Linked DNA regions of Homo sapiens. The protein of the gene in region 1 purifies or fractionates together with the protein of each later gene. This does not show direct contact. Each region holds a gene or a part of one and is shown in the gene's direction. Other genes may lie near its edges.

The links. The genes of interacting proteins can lie anywhere in the genome.
Region 2: the proteins of ASIC1 (region 1) and POM121C purify together in Homo sapiens (affinity purification with mass spectrometry, with the first as the bait; one large-scale study listed by BioGRID). This does not show direct contact.

Annotation. Positions count from the first base shown.
Region 1 is NC_000012.12:50,064,096-50,068,001, forward strand, and holds part of ASIC1 (acid-sensing ion channel 1), read left to right. Parts: intron 1-3,906. UniProt on the Homo sapiens protein: Forms voltage-independent, pH-gated trimeric sodium channels that act as postsynaptic excitatory receptors in the nervous system, playing a crucial role in regulating synaptic plasticity, learning, and memory.
Region 2 is NC_000007.14:75,423,772-75,427,677, reverse strand, and holds part of POM121C (nuclear envelope pore membrane protein POM 121C), read left to right. Parts: intron 1-1,224; coding exon 1,225-1,316; intron 1,317-1,969; coding exon 1,970-2,043; intron 2,044-2,482; coding exon 2,483-2,604; intron 2,605-3,049; coding exon 3,050-3,152; intron 3,153-3,452; coding exon 3,453-3,629; intron 3,630-3,906. UniProt on the Homo sapiens protein: Essential component of the nuclear pore complex (NPC). The repeat-containing domain may be involved in anchoring components of the pore complex to the pore membrane. When overexpressed in cells induces the formation of cytoplasmic annulate lamellae (AL).

The DNA of each region.
Region 1 (3,906 bases):
CAGATTGCAGAGGGATAGAAGAGGCCGACCTGGAGACAGTAACTTTAGAGGAGGGGTTCATGGGGTTCATGAACTTTGGGGGAAGGGTTCCTGCCCTAGGGGTTCATGGCTACCACCTCCTGCCTTATCCTTCTCATCTGTCCCTCTCTCCTAGGAAGTGCCTAAACTGAACACAGGTGGGTGGAGAGAGGAGATGGGAGCAGAGCCCATTGCAGTTGCAGGAATCCAGTGGGTGGTCCCTGGGTTGGGGTCTCAGATGTCTCCTTTTGCCTCTCTCTCAGACACAGATACACACAAACATCCTTCAGGTAGCCCAATTTCCTCTCTCACCTCTTCCCCTTCTCCCCAGACCCCAGCCATTTCTGACTCCATCCCTCTCTCAGACAGCTATCAGCTAAGAACTACTCTAAGCTAATTGACCTGGGGGCTGTTGGCTAAAGCAATAGGGAATTCAGTAACTAAGTGCCTCTGGGGGCCAAGCCTGGAAGTGGAGGGCTGGGGAGGAGCACCTCTAAGTCTTGGGACTTTGTCACTGCCCAGCTGGTGGAGAACTCCTGGATATGGCCACTGCATGCCCAGTGTGTCCTGGAGGCAGAAGGGCAGGCCCACAGAGAGGCTTGGAATGTTCTGCTGTGGATGGAGGTTGCTTCTGAGTGTGTTTCAGTTTTGTGGAAAGTAATTTCAATTCTCTGGGGATAGCGAGGGAGACAGAATATTCAGAATGAGAAGCTGGGATTAGGGGAGCGTTAAGCTCCACTGGATTCATTCCCATAGCAGACAGTGCCACTTCCATGTGCCAGGTCCTGCGCTGGGGCAGTTAAGTGCAGCACGGAAGGTTCAGGGCTGAGAGCCATGGGGGTGGTACTAAAGGGGGCCCAGTGGGGTGGGCTTCAGAACAAGGGGGAACATGCTGGGGATGAGCAGACTCTCAACATCCAGGGGGAGTCCTCCCAATCTCCCCAGCCAAACTCAGCCTCTCGGAAAATGCCAGGTTCATAGAATATGTTGGTGTCTCCCCAGCTAACTAAATCAACCGGCCAATTCTCTCCGGCCATTCTTCCGCCTTGGCCAACCCCTGCCCACCCCCACCCCCAAGCTTTCCCTCACTTGTATGTTTGGGGTGGCCAATGCAGAAGCCTCTACCTTCTGACCTATAACGTCCCAGTCAGGACCCTTAGGTGTGCATTCTGGGAGGCAAAGCTGGAAGGAGACAGCGAGAATGAGAAGGGGTGCCTAGCTGGGTGGAGGATAGGACTGGGCATTAGGGCTCCTGGTCTCTATTTTGGGCAAAGTTCCACCTGGCCCCACTTCTTAGCTTCTAAGCCCAATCTCCTGTAAGGAGGTTGTAAAATTATTCTTTATTGAGGGGCAGTCCTTCCTCTGGGACTCTTTGGCCAAGCCCACGGTGCCCCATGTGTAATGGATGTGCAGCGCCAACCTACCTGGACACAGGAATTGGACATCTTCCTCATAGAATATTTAAAAATGATCATGAAGCTGCTGTGTATTCACTTGAAAGGGAAGTTCCCTTAAGGAACTGTAAGGACAGACACTGCCACCCCAGGCTCTCCAAGGCCACTCTCCAGGGAGAGGGAGGGTCAATTGTGATCTTTCTGAGATCCCATGAGTTCTTGGATAGAAAATGCTTTCCCACCCTTCTGCATGCCCTCTGTGTGGCTGACAGTTCTGGGGGCCCAGGAGGTTGGGCTGTGCAGCTTAGTGCCATGTGTCTCTAGTTGGTGTCACACCAGCATGCCAGGCTGAGAACATCCCTGGGGGTGAGACTGTGGCAGTGGCCTTGGCCATGGACAGCAGCCATCTCAGACTTCCTCACAACACCCTCATCACATATGCGCCCCGAGCATGCAAGCACACATGTGCACCTCTGTGTGTGTCTGCAGGGGAGTGTGAATGTAGAGTGTGAAGTGGAAGCATGTGGAGGTGTATGGGGGCCCATGCAGCTTGGTGTGTGTGGCTGTGAGAGAAAGCTTCTGTGTAGGCAAACCTCTGGTTGCATGCAGAGCACATACTAGCAAAATTAATCATCTCTTTCAGTTGTGCTTTGCAATTTACAAATTCCCTTTACTTTAGCTCACGTGATCTTCATAATTCTTGTAGGAAGGAAATTATTAACATCTTCATTGGAAAGATGGGAAAACTGAGGCTCAGAGGAGTTGTGTGACTTGCCTGAGGTCACACAGCTGGGAAATGACAGAGTGGGACCCTGACTTCAGATCTTCTAAGTCCGGGTTCTTTGTGTGTGGCTGTAGGAGTGTGTATGGAGGAGGGTGCTCTGTTGAGAAGCAGTGTGGAGAGGCAGGAAGGGCAAGAAAGGGTATAGAGAAGAGACCCTAGGAATCCCGTTCCCAAGTTGAGTAGGCCTAGTTTTTTGATGCTTTTGTCTTTTCATTGCATCATCAGGCCAAGTGCCAATCTTAGGTGAACCCACCACTGGCTTTCCCCAGGGTCACACCAGGGCAGTCAGGACCTCCCTGAGGAAGTCACATACCAGGGCAGCTTAGTATCACATTGCGTTCATGCTCAACATCCTTAAATGGGCGTGCAGTGCTGCCTGGCAACCCCACTGTGTTTTCCTGGTCAGCTTGCTCTCTCTGATGACTACTTCGAACTTCTCCACTCTTCTCAGTCACCCTTCCTAGCTCCTCTCTCACCCTCAGCGGATGACCTTGGCTACCACTTACTTCACTGAGAAAATAGAAGCCTCAGACAAGATCTTGTCCTTCTTCTGGGTACCAAGCCCTAGAAGGGAACATTCATCTTATCTAGGATAAAGTCTCAACCTAGAATTTTCATCTTATTCCCTCTGCCTTTTTAAGATCTTTCTCCTGCTAATTCTGTCTCTCCCTGCTCTACAGTTGGTCGCTCTTTCTCAAGTGAAACCCCATTGACAATGAAACATGCTGAAGATGCTCTTGTCTTAAAATACATAGCTGTAACGACAGCTAACATATATTGAGAACTTGCTATGTATCGGTCTTTGTGCTAAGATAAAAACTAAAACATGTGTCTCTCAACTCCACAGCACCTGCCAGCTCCTATAGTATCTCTCTGCTTCCCTTTACAAAGTTCCTAAAAGTGATATGTTTATTTCACTGTTTCTATTTCCTCATCTCTAACTCACTTTCTGATCCACTCCAGGCTGCCTTCTTCCCCCATCATCACCATTCCTCCTAAATGGTTCTAGCTAAGGCCAGTGGTCACCTTCATGTTGCCGAATCCAGCAAATATTTTTTTTATTATTCTTGATCTCTCAATAGCATTTAAAATAGTTGCCCACCAACTCTTCTGCTGTTGTTTTTTTTTTTTTTTTGAGACGGAGTTTTGCTCTTGTTGCTCAGGCTGGAGTGCAGTGGCACCATCTCAGCTCACTGCAACCTCCGCCTCCTGGGTTCAAGCAATTCTCCTGCCTCAGCCTCCTGAGTAGCTGGATTACAGATGCGTGCCACCATGCGCGGCTATTTTTTTGTTGTTGTTGTATTTTTCGTAGAGACGGGTTTTCTCCATGTTGGTCAGGCTGGTCTTGAGCTCCCGACCTCAGGTGATCCGCCTGTCTCGGCCTCCCGGAGTGCTGGGATTACAGGCGTGAGCCACTGCGCCCGGACCCCACCACCTCTTTTTTGAACTATTCGCTTTCCTGACAATCATACTCTCTTTGTTTTCCTCCTATGTCTACCCACTCCTCTGTCTCTTTGCCAGTTCATTTTCTTCTACTTGGCCATTTAGTGTCATCACTACTCAAGGCTCAGTCTCAAGCTTTAATCTTCTTTTAAATCATAAGAGTACAATGCACCAGCTTGAAAAATTTTTACACTGGTATGTCTTACAGTGTAGTATTTTGCATATTGCATTGGTATAAAACATTTCCAGTACCCCAGAAAGTTCCTT
Region 2 (3,906 bases), on another chromosome or scaffold:
TTGTAATTAGGCTCAGCACTTACGAGACTATTTGCAGTGTCCGCTCTGTGCCATCTACTTTGCTGCTGGTCTGTGGAGGAAGCAGAGATGAAAACACCATCTTTGCTGTCAAGAACTCACCTGGTGGAAGAGGCAGATGTATGGATAATCATCACATGATGATAAATGCCATCGTTGTTGCAAAAGTCATAAATATTATGACAGTGCTTTTTTTGTTTTTGTTTTTGTTTTTTGTTTCTTTTTGAGACAGAGTCTCACTCTGTCACCCAGGCTGGAGTGCAGTGGCACGATCTTGGCTCACTTCAAGCTCCGCCCCCCAGGTTTACGCCATTCTCCTGCCTCAGCCTCCCGAGTAGCTGGGACTACAAGCACCCGCCACCACGCCCAGCTAATTTTTTGTATTTTTTTGTATTTTTAGTAGAGATGGGATTTCACTGTGTTAGCCAAGATGGTCTCCATCTCCTGACCTCGTGATCCACCCCCCTTGGCCTCCCAAAGTGCTGGGATTACAGGCGTGAGCCACCACGCCTGGCCATGACAGCGTATTTTTAAAATGAAGTTACTAAATGAAAAATCGAAAATTTAATGGAAGCAAGACTAAATTAGTTTACTGGGTTGTCTTCTTTAATTTACTTGTATCCTTTCCGTAGACAGTCTGGCACAGGTTTGAATGTGTCCTGGCTCTTCATTACTGAGGCTAATATATGCAAAAGTGTGTCCATCCCTTCTACCTTTATTCACATTCCATTACTTTTATAGACTTTTCTTTTTTTGCTTTCATAATTAATACTGGCAGTTGACTTTCTTTTCAGGGGTCTTTCTTCACAAACAAATTTTTTTCATTTTCATTTTCTATTTTTTTTTTTTTTTTTTTTTTTTTGAGACAGGGTCTCACTCTGTCACCCAGGCTGGAGTGCAGTGGGGCAATCTCAGCTCACTGCAGCCTCCTGAGTAGTTGGGACCACAGATGCAAACCACCACACCCAACTGATTTTTCAATTTTTTGTAGAGACGGGGGTCTCGCTATGTTACCCAGGCTGGTCTCAAACTCCTGGGCTCAAGCAATCCTCCCACCTTGGCCTCCCAGCATGCTGGGATTACAGGCATGACTAACCATTTAACCATAAAAAATATTTTTTTAGTCACTTAAAAAGAGACTTTGTCATGTTGAGGGTCAGATGCTAAGTTATCAGCAGGCTCAGTCATGTCCCTCTTGATTTTTAGCTGTGGAAGAGAAATGGCCCCAGTTCATCACCCTTCTCTAGCCCAGCCTCATCCCGCTCCCAGACACCGGAGAGGCCAGCAAAGAAAATAAGGTATTCGGCATTCTCCTGCAGTTTTCATTTGCTACGTGGACAGAAGGGGGTGAGGAAAGGTGGGAAACGAACCTGGCTCTTAGGCTTTGTGCTGCTGTGACTTGGAGAATCAAAGAAACTAAGTCCCTGAGAGGGACAATGCAGCACCCACCTGAACAACTATCATCCCTACAGTCTTGGATACTGACTCCAGTGGCCTCTGGCTGTCGCCTCCCACTCCAGCATGAGGGATCGGGTGCAAGCACAGAGGCCATGCAGAGTGGAGAGCAGAGAGAGTCAAGTCAGCGGGCAGTCGCCTTCAGGTTCTTGACTCGAGCTGATCCCCTAGGTGCTTGCAGTTGGCTGGAATGCCACTCCCTCAGGGATCACATCTGTGTCTAGAACTCCCAGGGACTTGGTAGGTTGTAAGTAAGGTTTGAAGATTATTGTTTTGTGCTTGTTTTAAGACAAAAACTGTCTTCATGGCCTCTGTGAACAGCCTCCCTTCATTCTGTTGGAATTTCCTGTTGACTTTTTTTATCCTGGCATACTGAGATCTTAAATGATGGTTGTTTTAGATGTTGGCCACTTGGTAGTTAGGAGGGTGTGAGAAATTATTTAATACTTCAGCCAAGAAGTCTTTCTAGACTAAATTGTTCCTTTTTTCCCAACAGAGAAGAAGAGCTGTGTCATCATTCCAGTTCTTCAACTCCATTGGCAGCAGACAAGGAGTCCCAGGGAGAAAAGGGTAGGTTGCTGAGCCAGGAGGAGGGGCTGCTGTTGGTGGTGGAGGTATTTGTGGAGGATGTAGAGATTAATACCTATTGAAAAAAGGTCTTGAGCATTGCTATGTCTAAGGCATGTTAGATACAAAGAGAGAGATTTCCTCTCCTTCAGAAGTTTATAGTCTGATGAGGGAGAAAGGCTACAGATGGGGGCTAACGATTGGATAGAGGTAAGCTCAGTTTGAGTCACCTGTGGGTGATCCCAGTAATTACTGCACAGTAAGCGGTTTGTGTGCGCGCCTTAATCTTACAAACACCATCCAAGCAACCAAACCATAGAAGATTGAATCTTTTCAGAGATACCATCATTGAAAACTCAGTGTGAAATGCGAAGTGGGTAGACACAACCATCCATTTCTGGAAGAGGGAAGGAAGCAAACGAGTCTTGATTTCTTTCTTTAGCTGCAGATACAACCCCAAGGAAGAAACAAAACTCGAATTCTCAGTCTACACCTGGCAGCTCTGGGCAGCGTAAGCGGAAAGTTCAGCTGCTGCCTTCTCGGCGAGGGGAACAGCTGACCTTGGTATGGTCTTGTCCATCTACTCCTGCCCTCCCCGGCTTAGCTCTCCTAAGTCTTAGGAACGCTAAGGACAAGTTTCTTCTGTTTTTTTTTCTAACTTATTTTTGTTTTTGTTTTTTGAGACAACATCCCTCTGTCACCCAGGCTGGAGTTCAGTGGCTCGATTTTGGCTAACCGTAACCTCTGCCTCCTGAGTTCAAGCAATTCTCCTGCCTCAGCCTCCCAAGTAGCTGGGATTACAGGCGCTTGCTACCACGCCTGACTAATTTTTTGTATTTTTAGTAGAGATGGGGTTTCACCATGTTGGCCAGGCCAGCCTCAAACTCCTGACCTCAAGTGATCCAGCTGGCTTGGCCTCCCAGAGTGCTGAGATTACCGGCGTTAGCCACCACGCCCAGCCTTCCCGTTTTTTCTGATTGGCCTGACTTCTTCTTTTTCTCTTTGGTAGCCTCCACCTCCCCAGCTTGGCTATTCGATCACTGCCGAGGACCTAGACTTAGAGAAGAAGGCTTCATTACAGTGGTTCAACCAGGCCTTGGAGGACAAGAGTGGTAAGGAGCACAGATCGTTGCACTCTCGAGAGGTTTCAGGTGTCTGTTTTCTTTGGTTTTATTTTGGTGTTTGGAAAAATGGGTTTCTCTGGGAAAATCCGAAGTAGAGTTCCATGTTTTCTTGTGGTCTTTCTCACCTGAGATATCCGTGTTGGTCTTCACGGGAACTGGACAGCAGGGACTACTGCAATTTAGGGCAGACATTCCTCCATGAGCTGTGCTGAGAGCCTGCTCTCCGACAGGCATGTGGAAAGAAGTCCCAGACAAGCCAGGACTGCTTCACCTTTCTTTCTTTCTTAGATGCTGCCTCGAACTCTGTCACTGAGACCCCACCTACCACTCAGCCTTCATTTACCTTTACCCTGCCTGCTGCTGCAACTGCCTCCCCACCCACCTCCCTCCTGGCCCCAAGCACCAACCCACTGTTAGAGAGCTTGAAGAAGATGCAGACTCCCCCGAGCCTGCCACCCTGCCCAGGTGAGCTGGAGTGGGGCCGTGGATCCAGCCTTCTGAGCAGCATCCCCGGCTTGGGTTGGAATAAGGGCGTCGTGCCTGTCAGTCGCTGGAGATTGCTCTGCAGGCCGAACGCACCCTGGCTCAGCACACCGGAGCGGGCCTACGTTTAACAGCGCCGGAGCCCACATCAGGAAGTGTTAGAGAAGGGGTGCTGCGACGCTCAGGATCTGAAGCCTGGCTTAGCTGCCCTGAGCCTCGCCTTCCTCATTTGTCAGATGAGAATGATCTTCCCGGTGCA